Regions from separate parts of the Homo sapiens genome. Here all the other regions are reported to be linked to region 4. The links are microRNA targets in miRTarBase. Many come from high-throughput screens and were not tested one by one. Region 4 holds a microRNA gene; each other region holds the end of a gene's coding sequence.

Region 1 (4,067 bases), not on the chromosome of region 4:
ACAGGCACCCGCTACCACACCTGGCTAATTTTTTGTATTTTTAGTAGAGACAGGGTTTCACAGTTTTAGCCAGAATGGTCTCGATCTCCTGATCTCATGATTTGCCTGCCTCAGCCTCCCAAAGTGCTGGGATTACGAGCCACAGTTTCGCTCTTGTTGCCCTGGCTGGAGTGCAGTGGCTTGATCTTGGTTTACCACAACCTCTGCCTCCCTGGTTCAAGCGATTCTCCTGCCTCAGCCTCATGAGTAGCTGGGATTACTGGCATGTGCCACCATGCCCGGCTAATTTTGTATTTTTAGTAGAGACAGTGTTTCTCCATGTTGGTCAGGCTGGTTTCCACCTCCCGACCTCAGGTGATCTGCCCGCTCGGCCTCCCAAAGCGCTGGGATTTGGTAGGCACCTGTAATGGCATGAGGCACTATGCCCAGCCATCACATAAATCTTATAAGCAGAAAAGAGGAATCTGACTTTAGGGAAGGCATATTTTTTTTTTTTTTGCCTGATTTCTAAAAGAAAAATTTTCCATAAGACTTCATGAAAACGTAATCAAGTGACATTGTGGCCACGGGCAATTTTGCTTATCAGGTGCACTGGAATTTCCTGTCTGACTTACTTATTCCTAGATCCCTCCCTAGGAAGTTCTGACTGAGCAAGTCTAAGCATAAAAGTCTAGTGTGTCCTATAGTACATTTTGCCTTAATCCAAAACACTTGTATAAAAATTAAGAATTCATAAAGTGACTTTCTATCCATTACCTCTTTTGATAATTTTAGTAATCTAGTGAGGTTTGTCCAAATTTGTTTTTAAGCAGGAAAGAAAATTTATACTTAAAATATCAAATGACTTAAGACACAAAAAAAGATGACTTGAATTCATATGGTTTTAAACAATGCAGGACAAATGGAGTTAAAATTTTAATTTTATTGAAAATATTAAAGCCAGTAAAAATCATGCCAATGTTGTTCAGTAGAGGCTGAGAGGTTCTCAGATGAACCAGGTATTCGGTTATTGGATATTTTTCCAAATACTGTACCTCTCTCTACTCATCATATCAGGTTGTGTGTAGAATCTCTTCTCTCAGAGTTCACCTTATTTGTAGAGCATTCATAATGCTTATCCCCTCCTCCAGATATTCCTTCTTATCTTTTCCAAGGCATTCCCAAGGCCCCTTTATGCATAACTTTATCATTTCCTTCCACAGTTATGAGATACACAGAGCTATGTGATTGCTGAGTCCATAAACTTCTCAACAGCCAGCTAGTTATTCATTTTGGTAGCATTGGCTGATTGATATAGTAGGTATGGATTAAAGAAGCATTAAAGAAATGTGTAAAAAAAAAAAAAAGGGAGGGATCGGCCGGGAATGGTGGCTCACACCTGTAATTCCAGCATTTTGGGAGGCCGAAGGGGGGTGAATCACTGTCAGGAGTTCAAGACCATCATGGCCAACATGGTGAAACCTCATTTCTACTAAAGGAAAATACAAAAATTAGCCGGGTGTGGTGATGCACACCTGTAGTCCCAGCTACTCGGGAGGCTGAGTCAGGAGAATCACTTGAACCCAGGAGGCAGAGGTTGCAGTGAGCCGAGATGGCACCACTGCACTCCAACCTGGGTGACAGAGTGAGACTCTGTCTCAAAAAAAAAAAAATCAATGTTAATAAGAGAAACATAAGATCTATCTATCCAACTACCTATCTTAATTTAGGAAATTCTGGCTGCATGCCATGTCTCATGCCTATAATCGGAACAGTTTAGGAGGCTGAGGTGGGCATCCAAGTGATCACTTAGATCACTTGAGGCCAGGAGTTCAACACCAGCCTGGGCAGCATGGTGAAACCCTGTCTCTACTAAGAATACAAAAATTAGTCTCTCCCTTAGTTGCTTCCTTCTCCCTAGTTTAATGTTTTTTATATTACAACCCTAGATTGAGCCATTCCTCCCTGCTCATCAGGGCATCTTAGGTTGGTTCATGCATCAATTCCAAGTTTTTCATGTGCAGTTAAAAAATTTATGGCATTAAGATTCCCTATGTTTTAAAAATTCATAAGGAGAAAAGTGGGGCTCAGGCAGGTAAAGTGGCCTGACCACGGTTACATAACCATTAAGTGGCTGATTTAGAAGTTGAATTTACATCTTGTCTATGTCTTCTGTTCTTTCTGCTCCTCCATGTGGCCTTGCCTATTAGACTACATCATAGACCAGACCTGTAGGATGTACTCCAAGGATTTGGGGTGTGGGTACCAAAAATTATAGGTGTGTACCAGAAGCCGGAATGAAGGCAAAGTATTAGGACACCTGCAAGAAGAGGCAGGCTGTTCTCTGAGAAGATGGGAATGAAGACATACAAACATAAGTGACTGAGTTTAAAAGCTTAATTGGCCTTAGGGTAAGAGTCAGGAGTGTCGGGGTTGGGCATGTTTTGATTTCAATGCCCAAGCCTGATTCTCATCCTTAGAAGCACATGGGAAAGGGTGGGCTAAGTTCCGGGGGAATATGATAGTAGCTTTCTGAACTTACATTAATCACACCCAGGTTATGAAATGGAGCCAATGGGGAAAAGGAGCATTTCCAGACCAGATCACAAACAGAAGTTGGGAAAGGCCATGCTTCCTGAATATGCAGATAAAGTAACTCAACTAAGCAAAGGGGTGGTGTTGTATTTCTATGAACATCTTGAGGTATGACTTAGATTACTTAGCTTAATCATTATTCTCCACTGCCTTCTCCTATACTATTCTGCTCTGTTTCCAGTAGCACTATGGCTTAGAGATACAGCACAGGCCTTGGAATCAGGCTGCTTAAATTCAAATTGTGTCTTCATCCTTTATCAATATAGCCACATTAGCAAACCTCCCTGAACCTTCATTTCCTTATTTATAAAATTTAAGAATAATAATATCTATTTTGCATAGTGATTATGAATTAAATACTACAAGCCCTTAGTCATTAATCACTTAGCTTAATGCCTAAAACAGAGTAAGAACACAGTTCATACCAGCTACTAATATTACTACTTTTCCAGATCTAACACTTTTGTTTTCGTATTTCAATATGCATTTTCAGGAGAGACCCGAGTAGGGAAAAAGCAAGTATTTCTGAGCACTCAAACTATATTGTTTGCCCATATATCTAACTGCGTGAGATAGAAAGTTTGTTATCCTTTCTCTCTGAATTAGGTTCAGCAAATTTCACTCTTCTTATGAGTAACTAACTGCATGATTACGTGGGTCCTTAGATTGCTAGTGCGTGCTAGCCCCTCATTTCACAGGCTGAACTTGTACAAAGCAAGTTCCTAGCAGATTTGTGACAGGAATCAGGTCTCCAAACTTGCCATCCTTATTCACTTCATCTCACAGCTCTACCTCCTCTCTTAAGAAAATTTTATTATTAGAAACTTGTACATGAAAAAAATATATTCATTTATTTTTTTAAAATGTACTTTTTCTGCTTGTAGGTAGACATGGGTAACCAAAATTATTAAATAAAACTGGACAGACTCTTTTTCCTTTGTCCAATACACTGTTATTTCAGTTGTAAATTTTAAGTGAAAAATCACCTGAGGATGTCACTTTGATGAATGTTTTCCTTCATTATCATCAAATTCCATAAATCCTCTTGAGAAAAAAAGAGAAAATAAGAATTACAATTGAGACTGAACAGGAGTGTTAGAATGATCACTAAGGCGCTGTATAATGTTTGAGCCACACTGTTCTTCTCTAGATTTTTCTATGTCAGAAAGAAATAAGACCTAAAATTTCTACATAGTTCATAGTGGGCAAGTAATTTATGCATAATTATCTTTTTTGCATCTGCCAACAAACCCATTAGTTAGGTATCTATTCACACATAAACTCCATAAAGTCATATATTTTGGTATATTTTTCCAGTAATATATCCCCAGCACTTAGAACAGTGCATGGCAAATAGTAGAAATTAATAAATATTTGTTGAATGCATCTTTATTATCTCTTTTTATGTGTGAGAAAACCTTTGAAGCTTAAAGATTAAACAACCTGTCCAAAGCACATGGCTGGTAAGTTACAAAGAAAATTTAAAAATTTGG
Region 2 (4,069 bases), not on the chromosome of region 4:
GGGGTATTCCATTATGGCCGTCCTAGAAAACTTACACAGATTCCGGGTTACCTCTGCTTTATGATCTAACCCACTGCCTACCAGAATTCAAAATGCTTGGTAAGTAACACAATAAACAAAAAGGCTGTTGGGTTAATACTTTTAATTACATGATTGTAATTATACAATTTCCACTATTCGATATTTTGTATAAAACCAGTTACAACCCACAAGATTTTCAAATGTGACAATATGTATCAAACTACATACATATGCAAAGTTTACACGCCATTAGGAAGCTTTATCTTAAAAATACCTTCAGGAAAATAAACATTCATTCAACCAGTTCTCTTGGCTTTAAAAAATATGATTAGAAATATACGCTGTAAAAAAAAATCAAGACAATGATTGATCAATACTGATCAGTTACATTTTAAAACTTTTAATAATCTGTACATGAGTGCAGGTTAGATAAAAGTCTGCAAATTATTAATAGAAAACTGCAGTACTATCATCGGATGAACATGTCTGCTGACAATTCTACCAGGTAATTAAGGAGGTAATTTCCTACACAGTATAGGTGAATTGTCCAGTCTTTAAACACATCTGGAGTCATCTCCACTGAGTGACATGGAGAATAACCTGATGTGGGTAAATGGAAGAGCAGCAGATAGCCTCTCCAGGGCAGTTTCAGCGGGAGAGAACATTTAAAGGAACAATAAAATAGGTTTTAAAAGTTGCTTTTGATGAGCACTGCTTTCCAAAATGCAATAATGATTTTTTTTAATGTAGAAAGAGAAGCTGTGTTAAGAACAGACATCCAATGAGTGCACTGCTTCTGTGGCTCCAAAGGTGACTGGGAAAAGAGAAGGCCCCAGGAGAGCCCTCAGGCCACACACAAGCCCAGGCCATCCCGCCCAGCCCAGCGAGCACACTGGCCTCATAACAATGCTTGGGAACTCCTCTAAAACTTGCCTAGGCCCAAGAAAACAGAGAGGTAGCAATCACCCCTGTGAGAGGGCTAGAGAGGAGGGGAGGAAGTAGGTAGGGGACAGGCTAGGGGCATCAAGCTCAGAACAGGGGAATTCTGGAGGCCGCAGAGCTGCGTGCTGCCGGGAAGCACTGGCCACGCCAGGCCATTCTGCTCTCACGAGGCGCTGCTCCTCACCAAATTCTACAAAAAGCTAAGTCCGTCTATACTTCTAGGAACCCAGTTTTGCAGACGCTCTTCCTCCGGACTGTCCCTGACTTTTGATAATTTTGAGTCCCCAGAAAGCTTCAAGAGCACCTAAAAATATTCACTTCCAATTTTAATTCCATCGCAAACCGTCCCAGTGTACTTTCAGGGCTATTTAAGGCTCTTAGGTTAAGGGGATCTCTCCATCTGACACACAGTTTCATGTTCCATAGCAACAAGGTCTTCTATAACAACGACTCTAAGTCAGAATTCCAGAAGATTCTGGTTGTTTGTGGTTTCAGTTGGGGGTGAGGGGAAGAGTCCACTCTCATTCATAGCAGGAAGAACTTTCCATCCCTCAGACCCAGAGACTTCCTGGATGCTAGAGACAGTCCTCATAAGTGTAACACTGCCCTTGCTATGCACACCATCCCAAGTCATTTGGTTATTACAAGGAATGCCTCTTCACCAAATCACAAGTTTTCTATGACTAATTTCAGTGAACCAGTTAAATAGAAAGATTTTTAGAAAGAGCCACAGTGATAGCAATTCTAGGTGGAAACTTGAGCAGGCAACATGAAGAGGCAGTTTATAAAATGAAAAAGGGCTGTGGTTCCAGTGACACCCTTTCTTTTCTTGGACGAAACACCAGGAGGCTCATTCACCGTGAGGGAGACAGTACTCACAAGAGCTGTGGCGCCTACGTTTACTTGTTCTGATGGGATGAAAAGCCAAACTAAGAAGGGATCAGATAGAAGCACGATTTTCACAACTACCTGGATTATTATTAATGGAGGGGATGGCCTTAAAAGGGGTAAGGGGAAGAAGAGGTGCCCTGAGAATTCAATGCTTTATGCATGGCACAGTTTGAATATTTATATTGTCTCAGCTCAAAATAGCAAAAGGAATGTTCCTCCTCCCACCCAAATCTTATTGAAGAGTAGTCTGCCCACAGCCAAGTGGGTCTTTGTGCCTATTCATTTCCAGGGACAGAAAACCACTGTTTTTCTGTGATCCAGTCCCCAGTGTTTAAAAGCTGGCCTGACCCCACCCGACAGTGCCTGGCGGGGAAAGAGTTGCTTGTTTGGCTGAGAACACGGCATCTTCCGTCTCTCATGATGCCGGTCAATTTTATACTTTCTTCCAAGAAAGTACACCAAAATGGAGGCACTGCCTTTCAATTACTTTTTGCATTAAAGACTTTTAACTTGTTTATTCCAACCGCTTTTATTTCTTCCAGTTTTGTGAAAAAGGCAGCTTCTTAAAATGGAGTTGCCTACTAATCTGGCGCACGCCTTGTGGCTTAGGAGGGCATTTGTTTCCCACTGCCTGTCGACATCTCAGCCCTCCATGCTCCCGGCACAGGCAAAAATGGCTTAACAATCATTAAACCACCCACTTCTTATGGAAGGAACTGAGGTGAGTACTATATATTCTTTTATTTCGGGCCCCATTTTTTTTTTTTTTTTTAGCAGCACATCAATTCTGTTTCTGTAACTGCTTCATGGCACAGACTCTGCTGTGTTCCAGTAGGGCTGCGGGAGAAGGCACTCTGCAGAGTTACTAGTTGTGTTCCCTAACCAAAGGCAACAGTGAGATCCAGAAGCAGATCATTGTCACTGAGATCGCAGGCCACGTCAATGGCCTTAGGTGGATCTCATAAGGGAAAAAAAAAATCCAATGTTACAGGGAAGGACTCTAAAAAAGTGGTAACTTTTTTTTTTTGTAAGCCGACATTATTTGGGATTGCTGTTTCCAAGGGGAAAAACCAATAGTGTGTTTCTTCCATTCATGGAAGGAAATATGATTTTAATTTGTATGACTGGCAACCAAACAATGGGCAGCCTCCCAGTTCTTCAGTCCCTGAAGGACAGAAAAAGGAACGACTTGCAACATCTTCCAACTCTGAAGTCAGTTTCTCCTCCTGAGTCTTCTAAAGCTACCATTAATATTCTCTTGCAAGTTTTAGGTTACTAAGGTACCACCTGGTCTTACAACATGCAACAGTGTTTAAATGTGATTTTCACAGATTCTTGTTAATAAAGCACTCTTTGGTGGAAGACAAGCAGCTTGGGTACTTAACAGAGTTAACATTACAACAGTATTACAAATAGTCAAGTGAAGATGATTAAGCCAAATAGTATCAAATTACAGAAAGTACCATTTCAGTAATGCCTTTTGTATCTTTATAAATTTTGACACAGGGTCACAAGGTGAACAGAAAATAAATACATAAAAAACCTCCATCAGATCCTCAATTCTTCTGAAGGCCAGCAACTACAATGATTGCCATCACAGGGACACACATGCACCACAGACCAGCCAGCTCCCTGGGTACCAGAGGGCTTGGGTATTTACACCTGAGACTAAATTTACAACAGCATGTTTGTCATTCAGCTTGAGAGCTGGACCCTTCTCTGAGTCATTTGCTTGCACCCAAACTCAAAGTTCATTATTCAAACTCCAGTGGACATTTTCTCCATTGATCAACTTCTTAGGTGGAAAAAGCAACTAAGGCTTTTGCAATTTTGTTTTGTTTTCAAATTGTGCTAATTTCTGTTGCAGTTTTCAGTCCTAGAGTCTTCCTTCAGCTCTGGTCACAGGTTTTTACTTAACGCAAGACTGTTTTAGTCCTTGAAATGGAGAGACTACAGGGGGAAAAAAAAGGATTTTTACCAGAAAGTTTACACAGCGTCCACAGGCAGTTATCAAAGACAAGGAGGGCAACATAATAAAAATACTGACATGCTAAAAAGTATACGCTTGCTGTAAGTTTCTAATGACAAATACTTTGGAGAAGACAACACAATATCAACCACAAAGGAAAGACAAACAGGAGAAAGGCAGGGCAGAAAAAGGCTCAGTTCTGCAAAAAATAGAAATTTAAAAAAACCAATACGAGTAAATAAAAAT
Region 3 (4,066 bases), not on the chromosome of region 4:
GTGCTGGGACAAATGAATGAATGCAAAAGAATGAAATTAGAACGTTACTTCACACCATATAAAAAATGATCTCAAAATGGATCAAAGACCTAAATGTAAGAGCTAAACTATAAAACAGAATAAATAGTTTGACCTTGGGTTGGGCAATGATTTCTCAGCTATACCACCAAAAATATGTGACAAAAGAAAACAATAGATAAATTAGACTCCATCAAAATTAAAGACTCATATGCTACAGATGATGGCATCAAAAACTGCAAAGACAACCTGCAGAAGGGGAGAAAAATTTTGCAAATCACATATATAAGGAATTCGTATCTACAATATACAAAGAACATCTATAACTCCTCTGTAGTAAAAATATAAGTAACCCAGCTTAAAAATGGACAAAGAACTAAATGAACATTTCGCCGAAGATATAAAATAACCCACAAGCACTGAAAAGATGCTCAAAATCATTAGTCATCATGAAAATGCAAATCAAAACCACAGTGAGATATCACTTCACACTCCCTAGGATTGCTATAAAAGACAGACAATGACAAGGGTTGCTGAGGATGTGGAGAAAATGGAATTCTCATTTGCAGCTGGTGGGAATGTAAAATGGTGTAGCTGCTTTGGAAAACAGTTTGGTGGTTCCTCAAAAATTTACAAATAGAATTTCCGTATGATCCAGCAGTTCCACTCATAACTATACACCCAATTGAAATAAAAACATATGTCCCCCCAAAAACCTGTGCACAAACATTCATAGCAGGATTATTAATGACAGTCAAAACTAGAAACAACCCACATGTCTATCAACTGAGGAATAGATGAAAAAAATGGGGTAAAGCCACAATGAAATATTATATGGCACTTAAAAGGAATGAAGTACTGATACACGCTACAACATGGATGAATCCTGACAGCATTACGCTAAGTGAAAGAAGCCAGTCATAAAGGACCACATGTTGTATGAATCTAATCATATGAAATGTCCAGAATAGGCAAACTTACAGATTCAGAAAGTAGATTAGTGGTTGCCTCAGGCTAGAGGGTGGGACACAATTGGGGAGCAACTGCTGTGGGCATGCTAGATGGGCATGGGGTTTCTTTTTTGTGGTGATAAAAATGTTCTAACAATCATATTGTGGTGATTGTTGCACACCTCTGACTACGCTAAAAACCATTGAACTCTATACTTTAAATGAGCAAACTCTACAATGTGTGAATTATATCTCAATATATTTCTTTAAAAGAAGATGGGCTACAACCAAGTGTGTTGAATGTTATGACTGGGGAGGGGTGATATGTGAGTGAATAATATGGGAACCCATAATATGGGAACCCAACTGGGCTAAGACATAAAGGATCAGGAGTTTGGTGACTGACAGCCAAGACAGAGCAGACAGTAAGGCCAAAGGCTTCAGGCTGGGAAAAGCATGGAAAATAGAAGGAAGTAAAGGTGTAATGGTGTGGTTGGAGTAGAGAGCAGGAAAAAGAGGGACAAGTTGTGGTTAGATGGTGGGCAGGGTCCAGAGGAGACAGGCTCCTGTGGTCCATGTTAATGATGCCAGATTTTTCCTGTGAGCAATGGGAGGACATTGAAGCGTTTTTAAGCCTGGAGAATGTAATGATTGGATTTGAATTTTAAAAAGTGTAGTCCAGCTGCCGGAAATTGATTTGAGGGATATGAGTAGATATAGGAAAATCAGATAGGGAGGCCATGCCAAAGTCAGGGAGAGAGATGATGTCAAAGAAATCTCAACTGAAGCAGTTAGCAGGGAGAGTGGGAAGTGAGAATATGTAGACAATGAGCTCTTCCATGAAATTTGGTTGCAATGAGAGGAAACAGGTGGAGTTTAGCTGGAAGGGGTAGGAGATGAAGAAATTTAAAAGATACACATTTTTAAATGGGAGTTAAATGACTCCAGAAGACAGAGACAGGTTTAGTATTCAGAAGACAGAAGAGAGAATTCATTCAATCAGGCCCTTGAGAAGGTGAAGGATAATGAGGAAGAAGTGGGGAGATAGTTACAGAGGAAGGTGGGTTTGTAGATTTGCAGGCAGAACTTCTTCACCCTCCTGCCTCCAATTCTGTAAAGCAAACCACAAGCCAAGAGTGAGTGGAAGTGCTTTAATGATGTGATACCAGAGGGTGGTGATTAATGAGGAAGCTAGGGAAGCGCTCCTGTGGCTGATGATAGGCATTAGTGAAAGAAACTGAAGTAAACACGACAATGCCTCTAATATTATCCTTCCTTCTGACACATTGTTTAAAAATAGGAAGGGTGGAAACATTAGTTAAGAGGGAATCGCGACCCTGTACGGAGAAAAGGTAGTAAGAGAGAATCCAGTTACTTTGAAAGTTTAAGCCTTTAGGCCCTGTGTATCAAATTAGCTTAAATATACAATTGAAGAATCATTTTTGATATTAGAAGTCATGCAGATTGGAACAGACACAATAAAACTGAAAATAATCAAATGTTCTGTTTTTAAAAAGGAGTGAAAGGAGAACTCAAGGAAATATGATTGGGTCAAATTAACTATGATCTCTGCAGTATTCATTTGCGATCATTAGAAAGCATCAAGCGTTCATCAGGAAATATTTATGCTACAACATTATTTATGGAGACAGTGTCTGTCTCTTGACTTCAAGGTACATGAATGGGAGATTAAATACTGTTTACCAAAACAATCGAGTTTTAGGTGATATTGATCACAGGTCGGCTGCGTGAAGAACTGTATACTTCGAAGGTATATTGGCACATAGAGAATGGTCACCAGGAGGTCTGGATGAAAACCAACATGAATAATTAAAGAAGACAGGCTTTGGGCAAAATAGCAAAGGTATCCTCAAATATTTGTAGGTCTTGCATGTCCAGTATTTTTTTCTACAGTGGTCCAGAGAGTAGAGCCAGAAGCATGAGTAGAAAGTTTCAGGGAAGTAGATGATTGCCTCTAGCTAAGGAATACCTAACACTCGGAGATGTCCAACAATGGGAACCACAACATCTTGAGCTCCCCTGTCCTAAAGAATTCTAGAAGACTGATGGGGCTTCTGCTACAGCAGGGTTAGGGTGTGGACTATGTAACTCTAGGGTCTGTTTCATGAAAAAAAATGTAGAGGAAATGACGTGAGTGTTAATTCTTCAGCACACTCATGCTAGAGGGATAAACACTGATGCCTACAGATGTTCATCATCTGTCCAAAGCTGCACAGTGAGACAATGGTACAGCTGGGGCTAGAGCCCGCTCTTCTCTCCCTAAGGCCTGACCATTTCTACCATTTCTGTTGCTCTACACCATTCCATTTCCACCATTTCTCTTGCCCTTCCCGTGATGAGAGATACTTTTTTTCTTTCGAACTGCAGTGAAGGATTCTAAACCCTCATTCATGCCTTTCAAGCCATGCCTTTCCATAAAGGTCCATTGGTCTACATTGTCTGCATGAAATCTGCAGCATTGGCCTTGAAACTCAAGGGCCTTGAGCAGCTAAGCCTTGGTTCACTTATGTAAGGGTCTGTCATCCCTGGGGAGGCTCTCCCAAGGAGAGAGTCTTATGTGCAGTTCTTAGAGGGGAAGGAGGACTCATGCTCCCAGGAGGGAAAGACTCCAAAGCTACCATGTCTTACCTGAGCCATGGGTCTGCTTTCCTCTTTGCTTCAGTTGTACATGACCAGGCTCATCCACTGAAAAATAAGCATCATCATTACAACAATTCTTTACACTTGTTAGCTTAATACAGAGCAGGGCAAATGCCACCCTCCTCCCTCGGAAGACCTCAGTCCAGTCTCATCACCCCTTCCAGCTAATTCCAACCCAAGCAGGGTACGGGGCGGGGTTGTCTCACAGCACATCTTCTGCTACTCCCTGAATAACCAGGCAGTGAGACGTATATATCTTAGGTCTACCAGCTGGCTGGTCAGGAGCCTCTAAAACTCAATGGGAATAAGTTTAATGTACAGTGAGCTCAGCGGGCTGTCCTTCTGTTCCCTCCTGGATTTATGACTCCCACATAATCCTCTGCTTTATTAAGCTATTGGAAAAAAATAAAATCTGTCTGCCAAGATCCTAAAGCAGC
Region 4 (4,067 bases):
GAAAAGCCAAACTCCAGTGTCCCTGATGTTGTAAAATGCCCCTGATGTCACATTAGATCTTCTGATGACCATGGTGATTCTTGTTGACTCCAGTTGGCCACATGCCTAGACTATGCTTTATTGCTATGCCTAGACTATGCCTTGTTGCCCCTCCTGGAATGTGTGTTTCCACCACTTTCACTGGTTTATTATACTAGCCTGCCTAGTAATCTCTATGAATCTTTCTCTGGCCCTTTTTGATGCTAGCTGAGCTTTTCAGGTCCTTTCCTAGAACACTTGGCCTTGTTTGGAGAATTTAATCTAGACCTGGGACCTATGTGATAAGTTGCAGGGCCATCGCTCAGACATTTGACTCATCTCCTGGAGGGTTTTCTCATCTGTAAAATGAATAAGTCGGCTCAATTCCCGTTAGTCTCAAAGGGACACGAAAGCTTAACAAGATCGTGCTTCGAGATATTTGGAACACAGGGTGGCATTATCACATTATTATTTTCACAAGCTGTTAACCTGAAGGGGGAAAATAAAGAGTGGAAATTTAATGCCAGAGAGGTTTTGGCACTTTGTCAATTCAACATTAGCTTTGAGGGCTTTTGGAATTTTGCCTGAAATTTTCAACACCAAGTGGCTAAAAGCTGTGTTTTTCTGGGCTTGTGATATTCCTGTCCCCAGGGATGGCATTAAGCACTTGCGAAGGATGAACTGTGCCAGGCCTATCTTCCAGTGTCCCACAAACAGACAAAAAAGCAATGCACACTCTAAATTGCTGTGCAAACCCACATTTTCTACTTGGAACAGCACCTCTGACTTGTGCCAGTAGAAAAGGGATGATGGGAAGGGAGTAATCCACGATTGCATGTGTTAAATACATTCCCTATGTGACATGTGGGGCAATCGTGGCTGTGGAGGCTTCTGTTTGGGTGCTTGGATGGACCCTACTGAAGATCACAGGACCTTTATAGGTCTTTCACAATCTCCCACATCAGTCTTTTTTGAAAGAGAGCTATTGCTTATGCAAAAGTCGCCCTTGCCAACTAAACCAAAGACTGGGCTAATTAGAAGCTAGGAAAAAGAAATACATCCTCTTGGAACTTCATTTTGGGATTTTGGAAGGAAGAGAAAGGCAGGAAGACCTGCTAGAATCTGGGGAAACATTTATTCATTCCCTGTAATTAATGTTTAAGCTATGTGATCATAATTACACCGAAATATTCTAAGTGGTTTACTTTATTTGGACAAGAATTATTTTCAAATACATAGGATTCCACATATGCGCCTAAAACACATATGCACATATATTTAAAAAATAATATGCTTTATATATTAAAAGATGATAAATTTTCAGTGTCAAGAGCTAAAAAGTATAGTTTTGAATGAATGTGCTTACACTTCTTAATGTATGTACATTTTGTATTTTCATGAAGACCTACAAATCTGTGCTGTGTCAGTGGAAGAAGGGAGCTATTTACATTTTAGAGCAAAGTACAGTGATCACTAATTTATCAAAAACTGACAGGAAATGAGGCTTCTGTATAAATGAAATCTATCAATAATGGACGGTTACTTTTTTTTCAGTCAACACATTTTGAATGGCATTGTTTCTAAACTACATTGTAATATTCTCTGTCTCATTTTATAGCAATGCCTATTCATTTATCGTTGTAATGTGTATATTCATTTTAGAAAATATGAAATGTTAAAAAATATATCTCACCATTAATCCAACAAAGACCCCTATTGTTAACATTTCAGTGAATTTCCTTGGAGATTCCGAAATGTGTATACACTAGGTATTAGTATGAATATATATAAATATAGCTCTTAAACATATTTTCAACATTTTTCACTGTGCTTTTAAAAACTTAATATTTTAATTTCTGTGTCATTAAAATTTCTTAAAGTTTTATGGTACAGTGTGAATGAGTAATATGAAATCACATAGACATATAATTTATTGAACTATGCCACTATAGTTATCAATGTCAACATTGAGTGTTCATATATTTTCATATTTTTGTTTCCTTACAAGAGATTACTGTAAGTATAATAAAAATTTATATAACATTTTTAAGGATATTGATATATATTGTTACATCCCTAGAACTGTTGTGCTAGTTCTGTTAATTTAATAGATTGAAAGTGGCCTGTGTTTAAAACCTGAATTTCTTTTTTAGTTGTTGAGGCTTAACATTTTCACATTTTGTGGCCATGTTGACTTATTCTGTGAATTGTCTATTGTTTCACTGAGATTTTATGTGTTAAATATTACGTATATATTATTAAGCTTTTGCATTCGTATATGTGAGATATATTTTCCTAGATTGCATATTTCAATCTTTAGAATTTTAAATTTTTTTTTGGAAATAAAACCTACTTAGTATCCCATTCACCTATATATTTTTGTGTTTTTTGAAAACTGGTTTCAACTTTATCATTTGTCTTAAGTTCATTGAAATTTTGGTGTATGGCATAATGAGAAATAATAGTCTTATTTTATTCCAAGTAGTTAACCCTTTACCTGAGCACCATTTACTGAGTCCTTTGTTCTCTACTAGTTTGTAGTAGTTCGTAGCAGAGAACAAAGGACTCAGTAAATGGTGCTCAGGAATCTTTACCATATGTTAAAAATAAATCCATTAGAATCTGTTTCTGAACTACCTTCATGAATAGACATGGTTTCACATGTCTATTCTAGTACCTATATTTTACTGTCTTAAATATTACATTTATATGATGAATTTTAATATCTAGCAGGGAATTCTCCACTTCATATATTTTCATGTTCTTGGATGGTCAGACTCATTCCAGATAAACTCTACAATTGTATAGTTAAGAAATTATTTAGAGACTTTAATAGCAATTGCATCAAATCTGTAAACTAATATAAGAACTGATACCTTTGCAAATTTGTTCTTACCATCTAGGAACGCTGTGTAGATAAATAAATATTGATAAGGACCTAAATATGCATAAGAACACGAATAGATATAGATATCAGGAAAGATTTGAAATTTCATATGTTTTATATTTTTTATTTTTTTTGAGACGGAGTCTCACTCTGTCGCTCAGGCTGGAATGCAGTGGTATGATCTCAGCTCACTGCAACCTCCGCCTCCTGGGTTCAAGTGATTCTCCTGCCTCAGCTTCCCGAGTAGCTGGGATTACAGGCCCATGCCACCATGCCCGGCTAATTTTTGTATTCTCAGTAGAGACGAGGTTTCACCATGTTGGCCAGGCTGGTCTCGAACTCCTGACCTCAGGTGATCCGCCGCCCGCCTTGGCCTCCCAAACTGCTGGGATTACAGGCGTGAACCATCATGCCCGGCATATTTTTTACTTTACTTACTATGATTGTTCCTATGTACATGGATTATGGATTATTTCCTTTTTTTTTTTTTGAGACGGAGTTTCGCTCTTGTTGCTCAGGCTGGAGTGCAATGGCGCGCGATCTTGGCGTGAGCCACCGCGCCTGGCTATTTCCTTCCTTTTGTTCCACCTCTAATTGGTTATTACTATAATATAGGAAGCGATGGCTTTTTGTTGTATTGATTTGTATCTTTTCAATTTATTAAAATCTCTTAATAGTACTTCAGAATTTTTTTAGTGGATTCTTTCGAGGTTGTTAACCATGTAATTTTCTCAACTGCAAATAATACTAAATTGCCTCTTCCTTTCCAAAAGTCTTATTGTATTGATTAGAAAATTCAACCTAAGCAAAATAGGTTGTCTTATTATCCATAGTTGATGCGATGAGTTATGGTCTGTTCTTGCATTGTGGTATTGCTGTTTGGTTTTAACGGGTAGTTCTTTATATGTTGCTTTTTATTTCTATTTTATGGTATGTTGTTTAAGTTTTTACATCTCTGCTTAAAAACGAAATTCACCTGTAGTTTGTATTTCTTTCAAGTTTGAATCAGGGCTGTGCAAGCTTCGTAAAATGAAAAGCTTCCTAGATTTTCCTTTGGTCTCTAATTTCATATAGCATGGTAATTACATGTTCCTTGAAAGTTTGAAAAAAATTCTTGATAAAACCGTACAGCCACAATGTCTTTTCTTATAAATACTTTAAA
Region 5 (4,069 bases), not on the chromosome of region 4:
ACCCTGCAAAGAGCTGCTGCAGATGACCTCATTGCAGTACTCTCAAATCTTAGCTCCACATTCCTCATTGATTTAGGGGCTGATGCCTCTCAAGGGATAAATGTGGGTATTCACCTATTAGTTATTGACACAATTCTGAGTTGGCCTCAAGGTACTTCAACCCAGGAACAGACATTTTCATACTTACTACCACCCCCTGACTTTTTGTCATTTATTTTTCAAGCAAACTCACTAATCCTGTTAAATTTCCCACATTCTGGAACTGGCTGTTTCTTAGTGGGATGTTTAACTTGTTCCATTAATTCTCACATTTTATGTAAAGTAGCAGATCTAAACCTTTAAATATATATATATGTACATGTATATATGTATATATTTATATACTATATATATGCATATACGTATTATATATATATATATATATATATACACATATATATATATACTTATATATATAAAATTAAATTCAGGTGCTTTCAGTCTGATTCATGTGTTACACACTTCCCTTTGATTTGACTAGGTCCCCGATCCCCGCCCCAAGGCAGAATAGCATAGGTATGTAAAGATATGTAGACAGATCACTTCTATTGATCTCCGGGAACAAGAGACAGGGAACCAGGAAAAGTAAAACAAGGAATGAGGAAAAAACAATTGAAGGCTGCATTAGAGAGCTTATGACCATGGGACACCACAGCTCAATTTTTTGGGGGTTCTTTTTGAGGATCTAGGTATAGAACACATTGGAAATAGTCTGCCCTGAGACAAGGAAGAGAGTGTTTATTCACCATGTCATGTTCACAACTGCTGATGGGCTGCCCAATCAGGTTTGTGTGGGCATCCTGATAGTAGTGCCAGGGTAAGTCCCAGAGCAAATTTTAGAGATATCCAATGGATCTGAAACAGGGTGCTGTCAGGCTACACTTGTACACAGATGGCTGGCTCAGAAATAGCCAGAGCACAAAGACAGGCTGATGGATGTACTGGACATATTTCATGCTCAATCTCAATTTCTTACCCTGTGGTCTCAACAGCATTGATATATATTTCCATGATCCCTTCTTTGTTTCATTAAGGGCTGCAAGTACCGTTTTTCTAACTTTTATCTTTATTCGGTGGAATTTTCCAGCATGAGCTTTTTGACTACCCTACAGGTTCGATTTTGTTGCTTTAGAGATTGGCAGCATATCAATTTGTCCTGAGAACTGATAATAAAGGGAAGTGAAATCAAGCACTTACCCTGCCTTTCTTGTACAGTGATGAGGTTATTAAGAGTTAAAAACAGACACATATACAAATATTTCATGCTCAAACTGTCTCATTTTTACATGGCCTGTAGAAATCCCTTCAAGTTGGCTTGTATAACCCTTTGACAGAATCCCAAGTCTTTAAGAGCCTCCTTGAATCCTGGACATCTTGTACCAGATATGAACTTGTACACTTACTGCCCTGGAACTATTAGCTGTTTTGCAAATAAGTTCTGATTCCTTTTAATTGCAAATGAAAATGAAAGAACACCATCTGGGTACTAGTGGTGCTCATTGTTACTGAACTGTAATTACTCTAGACCTTTTCATGTAGACAGGAGTGGGAAATATTTACTGTTTACAAAGAAAAATAAAGCATATAATGAGGTTTCCATGTCAAATTTAAGATTACTGGGGTCTAATGTTACATGATTATTAATTTAATCTATACTTTTAATAATAAAAAAGATATCAAGATTTTGTGAAATTAATCATGAAAAACCACATTCATTAGTCTAAGATTTTTTTCTGTCCTTAGTGTATATCCCACTGACAATGTAAAATTGAAATATTGTGTTTGATCACTTGAGATTATTTTTTCTCTATGTAGTAGTTCACTGTCCTCTCCTTCCTCTTTAGGGAACTATTATATTCATTTTGTATATATCCCCCAATTGCTTAGTTTTGAAATATAAGGAAATATGTACATATATATAATTGTAATCATTCTCCTTTTGTTACCCTCAAAATAACCATATAAACTACATGTGCTTTCTATGTTCTCACTCTGGAGATCATTCCAGTTTAGTATAGAGATCTTCACTCCTTTTACACCTGCGTAGTCTACACTGCTGTTTATTCAAACAATCCCCTATTAATGAATATTTGGATTGACTCTAATCTGCTTTTAAAAAATAACCATGGATACAATTTGTACTTAATACCTGGAAGTTAAAAAAACTGGCACTGTCATTCTCTTGATCACTCTCCTGATCCTCTGACTTCTTGAATTCCCATTTCCTCAACTGTAAAACAAGGAATTTTAATATGACTTACCTATCCGGGTTAAATAAAATTGCAATTCAAAAAGTATTCCCATATATGTTAAGAAAAACTGAAATAGCCACTAAAATGCATTCAAAATAAATAAATTATATAATTATCACTACACAGATTCACCATACAACTCATTTCTACTTAAGAGATTCATATAGACACAATGACAAAATAGATTGTGTCCACAGAAAGATCGAGAGTGAAATTTCCAGAAACTATCTTAGATGAAATAATTGAAGAATTCAGTTAAATATTTATTGAACAAATGCAGAGTAAATGAACTAAGGGCTGTTATAACCTTAAGTTACAACAAACAACTTCAAATATTCAGAGGGCTGTCACACAGAGAATGAAAGACTTGCTCAGTATTTCTCCAAAGGGCAGAACTTGAGCCAAGCGATAAATATAAGCAACCAATGGGCTGCAGGATAGTTGTACAAAGTGTATCATGTATCTTCATAGCTTCTTTGCCCATATAATGCATTCCACACTTAAGTTTCTCCTTCTAAAAGGCGACAGCACAAGTTAATATGTCTCATAAATGTCTTAAATAAGTTGCATTTTCATGGCAAGCCCTCCACTGCCAGCAATGGATATACTCACACTATTGGAAAAAATCTAAAGTTAACAAACTGGTTTAGTATGGAAATGGTCTATTTGTTCCTCAGCTATGTTTCTGTATCTTACATTAGTGGCTCTCAGGAGGTGGGGGGTGAAAAGAGAGCATGTTCTCCAAAGAGGGTGAATCATAATCCCCAGTGATTCAGATACTGTGCCTGGGGACAATCTTTCTTCAAGTCCAAATGAATCATTATAATTATCAACCAATGGTACATATAAGAGTACGGCATGTGCTGGGACAGAGAAAAGACAGTTGACAAACACTATTCTACATGAAACAGGAAATCTTATTTTATGAGTCACTAGAAAACTAACTGTAATACTGACAGGCTCCATCCAGATTATTAAATACTACAAAATGAGAACTGTTTCAACAACTATTCAGCATAACGTTTATGGACAAAATGTATATAGTATATCTTATATTCTATATGTATTTTATCACATAGTAAGGAATGCTGAGGTGCTTAAGCCATCCAATAAATTGAAAATACAAACTTTACATTTCTACGTTTGTCAGTATACAGGATTCTGAAGATGAATCTTGAACTCAGAGTGATAAATCAGTTTTCAAGGAAAGCCACATAATCCGTCAGTCTGGCTAACTGCTGTTCATTGGGTATTGGGGGAACTGGAGCAGGCTCTGTATGTTAAAGAAACAAACACACTTCATGTTACATACCACAGTAACAAAGCTTTGGCCCCAACACCTACCTCCCCTAATGCCTTCAATTTTTAACAGTAAGTTAACTTTCTTAGATTTGTCCTGGTTTTAGACAAAATCTTACATCATAGAGGCTTGGACATTTTTGAAAAGCAAGCCAAGAAGTTGCAACTTTTATGAGTATGGTTTTACCTAACTGCTAGTAAAGGCATGTCTCATGTTGTTGTTACTGAAGTATTCTATGTAAAGGTTAAAGACACTTTTATCATGCAACATGTCTTTTAAAAGATCACAGCTCTTCTTGAAAACATCCTTACCCATGCAACATTAAATTCAAGAAATAGAGTGCTTCCCATGCCCCAGACATCACTGAAGAATATTAAATTGTCAACAAACCAAAAAAAAAAAAAAAAAAAAGAAAACCCACAAAGAACCTCAAGGAATTTACATTCCAACATTTAAATTACTACACGTCAGCCTGGGG
Region 6 (4,069 bases), not on the chromosome of region 4:
GAACAGGCCCCCCCATGGGCAGCCGCTTCAGAGATGGCCCTCCCCTCCGTGGATCCAACATGGATTTCAGAGAACCCACAGAAGGTACGGGCTCATGTGTCAGTGGAGGGCATCTTGTCCTGATGGGATGATCATGGCCGGTTCACACCCCGTGGGGACTTGGCGTTCTACGGCACACAGAGTTGTCGGCATAGATCCCCACGTTCTCTGGAATAGCAAGTTCACCTTGGTCATTAGAGCATCTGCTGTTGGGGTAGCAGGCCAGGTGAATTTTAGAAAGTGGGCTGGTTTGCTGACAGCAACATCAGCATGGTCGTTTTGCTGGATATGGAATGGGATCCACACTCTGACAAACTCTGCTTTTTCTCCCCCAGAGGAAAGAGCACAGAGACCACGACTCCAGCTTAAACCTCGAACAGTCGCGACGCCCCTCAATCAAGTAGCCAATCCCAACTCTGCTATCTTCGGGGGTGCCAGGCCTAGAGAGGAAGTCGTTCAAAAGGAGCAAGAATGAGCCTGCGGTTGGGAGGGAATGGGGCGTGGGGGGTTAGAGCAGGACCACAGCCTGGTGAGTCCCCGGGCAGCCGTCCTGCAGCCGCCACTCCTGCGCCTGCCATTGGCCTCCTCACAGCGGAAACACAGCTTGTGAGTGCATGTCAGCTGTTAACAAGTGGTTTTTAGTACATTCTGGGCTTTGCTGTATCTATCTAGTGCCTGTTTGTGCGTTTTTTTCTTTCTTCCGCTGCTTCCCCATTTTCCTTCTGTCCTTTTTCTCCTGCTCCTTGTTTTCCCAGCAGCACATGGGGTTCCTCGGAGGAGCAGAGGTGGCCGCCGTGGGGGGGCGTTTGGGCTGCGGTGCTGCGTCATTTTTCCTTTGCTTTCTCTTTACTTTAGACACTGGCCCAACTCCAGGCGTTTCCTTTCATTCCCTCAGTGCTTCTCTTCTGACCTGCATGTTGAGTTCTGTATTGCTGGGGCTTCCAACAAAAACCAGAGTCACTGACAGAGGGAACAGCAGAGACCTTGTTGGTATTCAGCTGTGATGGATATAGAGAATCAGAGGCACCTTGTTTTCACAACTAGGATAAAAATATCTGCAGGGTCCTTTCCATTCCTATTTAGAGGGAGTCCTGGCTCCATGACCCCCTCCCGAGTGGACTGTCCAAGCAGATAGGCTCACACGAGAAACAGTGAGGCTGAAAGGGGGGGCTATGGAAGAGCGGTAGGGAGTCCACGGAGAAGATGCAGTGAATGCTTGCATGCATTCACACGTGTGTGTGTCCCAGCTAGTTCACTCCTTTCGCCGTGCGTGGTGGAGGCTGGCCTCTCTGGCTGGGTGCAGTGAATGGCCAGCGGGTTTCTTTTCTGCTGGGCCAAGGCGCTTTGGGGGTGGAGGGGGTGGTGCTGGTGCTGCACTGGGCTGACTGCGGCGCTGACGCAGCGTTTCCCCCCATCCCTGTTGCCTGTGTGTTGTGTGGATCTGTTCCTAGTATAGGCAACATAATGAGATACTGTGCTTCCCACCTCCCCTTCAGTTCAGAGCCAAAATGGGTCTAGAATCTGGCACTTTACTCATTTCCTTTGATAAATTGTACTATGCAGAGCTGTCAGGAACCTTCAGATAGCAGTAGAGGACTGCAGCTGTCTAGGTCTGCGGCCACATCTTGGGGACACACTGGACTGTTCCCATGTGCAGGGTTCAGCAGTTATGTGGGAGTGCTAGGGGTTAGGCTTTTGAGCTTGAACGCCTGCGTGTGAACAGATGAAAAATCCTTCAGTACCCAAGTCCCAGTCTGTCCTATGGGGAGCAGTTTGGGGGCGGCCGGCAGCAGGAGCCTGGGAAAGAGGCCCTCGCCAGGTGATGGCAGGGCCAGGGTGGCCTGGGGCACCCAGCGGAATGTGCTTAGTATTTGGTCACCAGCCGTCATCCTGGGCTTTTCCTACTGTGTCTTGTTACAAGGCCTCAGCAATCCACAGAACTCTCTCTCCTTCCTTCCACCTGTCAGCTTCTCTGCTTCTGAGATAAGAACCATTTGTGTAACACCAACACTTAACTTCAGAAAGACATGCATTATGTGGTGTAATCAAACCCGATGCTTTCAGATGACCTACTTACATCTTCAATGTGGATAAGATAAAGAACAAAACACATGCATCTAAACTGCTGGGCAATCCAGTTGACTTTTAAATGTAAGAATGGAATTCCAAACACTTAACACATTCAGCTATATGACAGAAAGTAAATCTATGGATATGGTATTTTGTGAATGATCTTTTAAATAAAAGAAAACCTTACGTAATATTTAATGCTTGCCTTTATTTTTGAGTTCTTTTTAGCTGCTCATGGAATGTAACAATTTTAAATTTGGGAAGCACCATTGAAATGGAAGAGTCTTCCTGTCATTTTAATTCTGGGATGAGTGAAGTTATTTTAAAAGCTGGTGATGATTAGAAATAGGATGCCAATTTTTTCCCCTCACTTGCTAAAAATGTCCTTTTCCCAACCAGGCAGAAACCTTGAAAGTCTGGCTGTTTTTGGTTAGGTAAAGGAACATTTTTTTCCCAAGATGGAAGAAATCAAGCATTTACACAACATGTGGCTTCTTTTAACAACTGCTTGTAAACGAAATTCTAGGTGCCCCTCATGGCTGGGAGGGCTGCTGCTTCCTGACAGCAGATCCTGACTCTGGGGAGGTGCTGCTATAGGTTGGTATTGGATAGTGTTAAAATTGACTTAGGCAGACAAAGAAGAGCTGAGTGGGCAAGGTGCGGGGCATGAATGCGTGTTTGGCAAAGTCCTGGCTGACTTTGGAAGGGCCTGGCCAAGGCAGACCTTGCCTACCTTGAGGTAGGAGCATTGTCTGGTGATGGAGGACCCCGGACCACGACTAAATTTTAGTAAGGCAGGCAAGGGCTGTTCAGGTGGGAGCCTAGAGTAACTCTTTTGCTTCAACTACTTTCTACCCAAGAGTAGGTGGTAGAGAGGACCGGTGTTTCAGAGACAGGGTCTCCCTCTGTCACCCAGACAGGAGTGCAGTGGCGTGATCTCGGCTCACTGCAGCCTCCGCCTCACGGGTTCAAATGATCCTCTTGTCAGCCTCCCAAGTATCAGGGACTACAGGCACCCACCACCATGCCTAGCTAATTTTTGTATAGTAGAGATGGGGTTTCACCATGTTGACTAGGCTGGTCTCAAACTCCTGACCTCAAGTGATCCACCCACCTCAGTCTCCCAAATTGCTGGGATTATAGGCACAAGCCACCATGCCTGGCCCTGACATCTATTTTTAGTTGGTGATTTCTAGGGAATAGCCTGGTTTTCTCAATGAAGGACATTACTTAACAGAGATTAAGTCTAGAACAAGAAGAGCTGATTAACCTAGAACACGGGTTGACCTTGCCTTTAGGGTGGTGAAACGGCCTAAAACCTGAAGGAAGACTTCCCAGGGAGCTGGTCACTGGGGCCAGGCTCACTGGGCTTCTCTGAAGTCAGACCCTGGCCACATCTGGATGTTTTGTTTTTTTGGTTTTTGTTTTTTTTTTTTTTTTTTTTTTTTTTGGTGAGATGGAGATTTACTCTTGTTGCCCAGGCTGGAATGCAATGGCACGATCTCGGCTTACTGTATCCTCCACCTCCCAGGTTCAAGCGATTCTCCTGCCTCAGCCTCCTGAGTAGCTGTGATTATAGGCATGGGCCACCACGCGCGGCTAATTTTGCATTTTTAGTAGAGACAGGTTTTCACCGTGTTGCCCAGGCTGATCTCGAACTCCTGACCTCAGGTAATCCACCTGCCTCTGCCTCCCAAAGTGCTGGGATTACAGGCATGAGCCACTGCGCCTGGCTGGATGTTTTAAGATTTTATTTTATTTTGTATTTATTTTTCTTTGAGACAGAGTCATGCTCTGCCACCCAGGGTGGAGTGCAATGGTGTAATCTCAGCTCACTGCAACCTCCGCCTCTTGGGTTCCAGCGATCCTCCCACCTCAGCCTCCCTAGTAGCAGGGATTATAGGCACATGCCACCACGCCCAGCTAATTTTTGTGTTTTTAGTAGAGATGGGGTTTCACC
Region 7 (4,069 bases), not on the chromosome of region 4:
GCCGTCTCAACAACAACAAAAAAAGTTGAACCTGCTTTTCTGTGTTTACTGGCTGTTTGGAGTTCAGCTGTTGATTTCCTTACCCCAACTTTATTTTGTGTTATTCTTGTTGACTTGTAGCTCTTTAGTCTGGATGTTAACCATTTGTTGATTAAATACATAGAGAGTATCTTCCCCTTGTCAGTTTATTTTTATCTTACAGATTATGTTTGGAGGGGCGGCAGGAGGGCTAGAGTTGCACTGTTTTCTGTAGACCAGTTTACTTTTATGGATATATGCTTTTTGTGTTCTAAGAAATATTTCTCTATTCAATAATATATTATTTAGATATTTTTATCACTTAAAAGTTTTTAGTTTACTTAGGATTTTTGAATACTATGAAACTGCCAAGCTATTAATTATTCTGTGTTTATTCTCGTAGGTGGTGCGGCTGAACAAGCTGGAATAATAGAAGCTGGAGATGAAATTCTTGCTATTAATGGGAAACCTCTGGTTGGGCTCATGCACTTTGATGCCTGGAATATTATGAAGTCTGTCCCAGAAGGACCTGTGCAGTTATTAATTAGAAAGCATAGGAATTCTTCATGAATTTTAACAAGAATCATTTTCTCAGTTCTCTTCTTTCTTTAGCAAATCAGAGTGACTTCTTTAAACCACAGGTTGTTGAAATGGCCAACACTGGTACAGACACGGACTATAAAAATCTCCAAGCTTGTGCTTACACATGAAGCCTGACTTAACTGTATGTGCAACAGCAATGAAATTAACTCCAGAAGCCTTCCACCTGCGTCACCCAGGCCGGGAGGGTTCCTTCGTTCCAGTGCCTGTCCCCTACCTTTATGTTATGTTTACTGATGGGGATACAAGATGTGACACACCCTTCTTTATTTGAAACAAACAAACATTTAGCTAGACCTTTGCTTCCTTCTTGCCAGCTCTCCCAACATACCCAATCCTGGTGATCAGGGAACTAAAAGTCTGAGGGGGACACAAATGTCACACCTAAGAGGACAATCAATCATTTTGTATGATTTTGTAAGTAAATGACAGAATGCTTTTAGGCACATTCAATGGAAGGAGGAGATGTAGGTCTGTATATGTTACCCTGAAAAGAGAATAAGACTTACTTAAAAAAATGAATTATGACCTGTTAGGCTGAGCTCAGGAATTGTCCAAAAAGGAAAAAGCAAAATAATTAATTGAGAGTATTTTTTAGTGAGTGTAATGTATAATGTACGTATGCAAAGTTCAACTCAATAGGTTATTGATCACCATGAAGTATTGATCATTTTCTATCTCAAAAGTGTAAGCCATAAGGCTGTTTTACAGAATAGCACTTCTGATAAGCTGTATTAAATAGCCATGAGCTTCACTGCTTAGAGGGAGCAGAAAGGTCAACATCTAAAAGCACCTTACAACTAGTTTTTGAACCTGTCTTGATAAGTGCTTGAATTCAAGACTGGTCAGTCCAAGAGCAGACAAAAATATCACAAGTCAGTCAGTCACTGGGTTTCCATTTCTGAATTTTATGCACTCCAACCATGAATTTAAACTAAATTTTTAGAAATCAAGTATCTTTCTAAGTGTCCTTGGATTTATAGACAATGTATGTACAATCCAAATAGAGGAGCTTAATGGAATCCTTTTAGGAGACTGGTTGGTTTTTTTCCCTCTTTCCCAACATGTTTAAGAAATGTAACATTCTAAGTATTGGATCTCTTTTCTTGACCTAGTATAATGACAACTGCAGTGACTTAAGTTTTTGCTGTTTTCGTTTTCCCGCTTTGCAATTTCCTCCTTTTGCCAAAAATGTTTTCCTACAGAAGACTGTCGTGACTCACGCTACTTGGGAAACTCACTCTGGCCACTCCTCCTCTGGTGGCATGAGCTGCTTCCCAGTAGCTATTCCGATTGGATATTCCGTTCGTCGTCACATAGCTGGCTTTTCTCTCCTCATGATGTACCTTATTTTCTTAGGTAAATAATTCCAAACTCTCATCGGGTCATAAAGAGGAGGAGAAACAGGGTGAGTCAAGGTAAAGGAGCAGAAATGTAGTTACAAGCCAGGTCGTCTTCAGTGGCACAAACCAACCCGTTGAGCCCTGACAACATGAGTGGAGAGTGCATTTGCCATACCTGTGTGCATGACACTAAGATTTTATGTTGGAGATACTTCTTTAAATAACCTACAGCTTGGGTCTATGGCTGTGACCCCCAGATTCATGGAGGGGCTTTAGCCATCAGCTTTGTACATCATCATTTTTCTGAATGACCAATCCCACTAAACATCTTTGAAGTCGGCCTAGAGAGGTCCTTCAGATGAGAGAGAAATAGCTGGCTTGTCTGAGTCCAGATTTCTCATCAACTGGCAATACAAAGGAAAATATGGTACAGGAGTTAGTTAGAAAGGTCTTATTGATTTTACTTCTACTTTTCACTACAGTTACAGGTAGAATACTGTAGGAAGTCAGTGCAAGGTGCATGCTTGATTGATAGATATTGATTGATTGTTTTTCAGTCTCTGGGGTCAGTTTTGTGGTTTCTGCTTTCTTGCCTAAATCAAAGACTATTTCAAGTCAACAACACTGAAAACTGCTTTTCGCCTCCACTCTTACAGCTGTGCCTAATAATAATTAATTAATAAACGCACAGCCCTATGTGAACAGACAGGAATTTCTTGTGCAATGTGGAGCAAATGGAATGGTCTCCTTCCGCAAGTCTTTTTAATCCTCATATCTGGAGTACAAGGGTAGACCTCTGGCTTACCACATACACTATGCTAAAGTCATCAGCCACTGCTACTACATCTTGCCAGAAGGTTTCCCTCGCCAACAAACAGTTGAAATTTAAGGGAAGAAGCAAAAGCTAAACTGTCTTTGACCCTAAGATAGATAGAAAGCTATTTATTTGTCTTCAGTGTTCAAGGCATGACTAGTATTTCTAATTAGCCTAATAAATTCCCACACTTTCTGAAGTGAACACTAATGGTATTGTCCTACTAAAACTGTCATTGTTTCTTTTTTTTTAACTGGTCAGTCATTCACAATAAGCTATGAGGGTAAATAAATATGTGTTATAACAAGTAAACCGTAGTTGCAAGAATATACCATGAAGATTAAAGTAGGCTGGGTTTCATTTCCATCTTCCCACACATCTCATTGAATTTGATGGTTGACTTAATTGGCACCATAACTTTGTATGATATTATACATTAACCTTTATTTATGTAAAGTAAAATGCCTTATATATTAAAGAGTAAGTGCAATAATATGAAATAGCCTGTACATTTTAAAAATGTTGTCACCAAGTTATATAAATCCACATCTCTGTAAACAACCTTTTTTAAGTAATTTTAAAAAAAATAAACACTCTGCTTACTACTTGATTTTTTTTTTCTCTTTTGGCTGTTTGTTTGTTAATAATAGAGTAATATTGAGATGAGAAATGTTTATTGTCACCTAAATGCATCAGAGGTACAAAGGCAATAGAACTCAAATTAGCCACCCTTTTCCAGGCCACACTCACAATCTTGACACAATCCAAAACTTTTCCACCTCTAAATCTTTCTTACAATTGAACATCCTACTCTTTTACCACACGCTCCCAGCCTCCTGGTCACTTCCTCCCACGTCTTCACTTTCAAAAAGCCCTTGACAGTTTTCTCCCTATCAGAACTCCACCCTTCCATTCCCTTCTCAGACCAGAACCCTAGCGTAGCACAGCAAACTCTGCCCAGCCCACAGGCTTAGATCCCTTGCCCCACTGTTGTGTCTTACCAGGCGATTCTGGACCCTTCCAAATAGCCAGCATCTTGGTTCCTATAACCGTATTCCTAGAGGAAAATCCCACAACTAGACAGAACGCTGCTGCTGTAAATTCACAGTTTCCAGCCTTAACTGGACCCTCGCTGCCACTCAGCACTTGTTTCCTTGTCAGTTTTTCCTCTCATTTTTCACAATAATGTTCTTTTTCTCAAAAACCCTACCCATTCACCTTCCCCCTCCTACTTGGATGATCTGGGATCCTACCTCACAGAGCTCAATAAAAAGCATCTACTTGGCCAGGCGTG

The links. Region 4 holds the annotated microRNA hsa-miR-3919 (GCAGAGAACAAAGGACUCAGU, at 2,569-2,589, shown strand). A microRNA usually pairs through its seed, bases 2 to 8, with sites in the 3' UTR of a target mRNA and lowers its output. Matches are read on the target gene's strand: a 7mer-m8 pairs with bases 2 to 8, a 7mer-A1 pairs with bases 2 to 7 and ends in A, and an 8mer does both.
Region 1: the mRNA of C5orf46 is a reported target of hsa-miR-3919. The part of its 3' UTR that is shown has no 7-base or 8-base seed match.
Region 2: the mRNA of CDC14B is a reported target of hsa-miR-3919. The part of its 3' UTR that is shown has no 7-base or 8-base seed match.
Region 3: miRTarBase lists CAPN13 as a target of hsa-miR-3919. The part of its 3' UTR that is shown has no 7-base or 8-base seed match.
Region 5: miRTarBase lists COPS8 as a target of hsa-miR-3919. Seed matches in the 3' UTR shown: 7mer-m8 at 3,161-3,167 and 7mer-m8 at 2,644-2,650.
Region 6: the mRNA of EIF4H is a reported target of hsa-miR-3919. Seed matches in the 3' UTR shown: 7mer-m8 at 2,008-2,014.
Region 7: the mRNA of PDZD2 is a reported target of hsa-miR-3919. The part of its 3' UTR that is shown has no 7-base or 8-base seed match.

Annotation. Positions count from the first base shown.
Region 1 is chr5:147,893,424-147,897,490 of GRCh38, forward strand. It overlaps C5orf46 (chromosome 5 open reading frame 46), which reads right to left. Exons shown (of 4, transcript NM_206966.3): 3 at 3,561-3,618. The coding sequence ends at 3,570. Among named protein-coding and RNA genes, the nearest start is that of C5orf46, 11 kb to the right of the region's middle.
Region 2 is chr9:96,499,986-96,504,054 of GRCh38, forward strand. It overlaps CDC14B (cell division cycle 14B), which reads right to left. Exons shown (of 14, transcript NM_033331.4): 14 at 128-3,804. The coding sequence ends at 3,768. Among named protein-coding and RNA genes, the nearest start is that of HABP4, 52 kb to the left of the region's middle.
Region 3 is chr2:30,727,113-30,731,178 of GRCh38, forward strand. It overlaps CAPN13 (calpain 13), which reads right to left. Exons shown (of 23, transcript NM_144575.3): 22 at 3,618-3,674. The coding sequence ends at 3,648. Among named protein-coding and RNA genes, the nearest start is that of CAPN13, 78 kb to the right of the region's middle.
Region 4 is chr3:159,280,132-159,284,198 of GRCh38, forward strand. MIR3919 (microRNA 3919) reads left to right here and starts at 2,515; the gene lies at 2,515-2,603. The region is part of intron 4 of IQCJ-SCHIP1 (IQCJ-SCHIP1 readthrough); the gene reads left to right. The region is part of intron 1 of SCHIP1 (schwannomin interacting protein 1); the gene reads left to right.
Region 5 is chr2:237,097,158-237,101,226 of GRCh38, reverse strand. COPS8 (COP9 signalosome subunit 8) reads right to left here. Exons shown (of 8, transcript NM_006710.5): 8 at 753-3,564. The coding sequence ends at 3,485. Among named protein-coding and RNA genes, the nearest start is that of COPS8, 13 kb to the right of the region's middle.
Region 6 is chr7:74,194,795-74,198,863 of GRCh38, forward strand. It overlaps EIF4H (eukaryotic translation initiation factor 4H), which reads left to right. Exons shown (of 7, transcript NM_022170.2): 6 at 1-84; 7 at 375-2,302. The coding sequence ends at 514. Among named protein-coding and RNA genes, the nearest start is that of MIR590, 5.6 kb to the left of the region's middle. RefSeq lists an enhancer at 1,345-1,846.
Region 7 is chr5:32,107,548-32,111,616 of GRCh38, forward strand. It overlaps PDZD2 (PDZ domain containing 2), which reads left to right. Exons shown (of 25, transcript NM_178140.4): 25 at 422-3,385. The coding sequence ends at 588. LOC105374711 (a long non-coding RNA gene) reads right to left here and starts at 644. Exons shown (of 4, transcript XR_007058716.1): 1 at 1-644.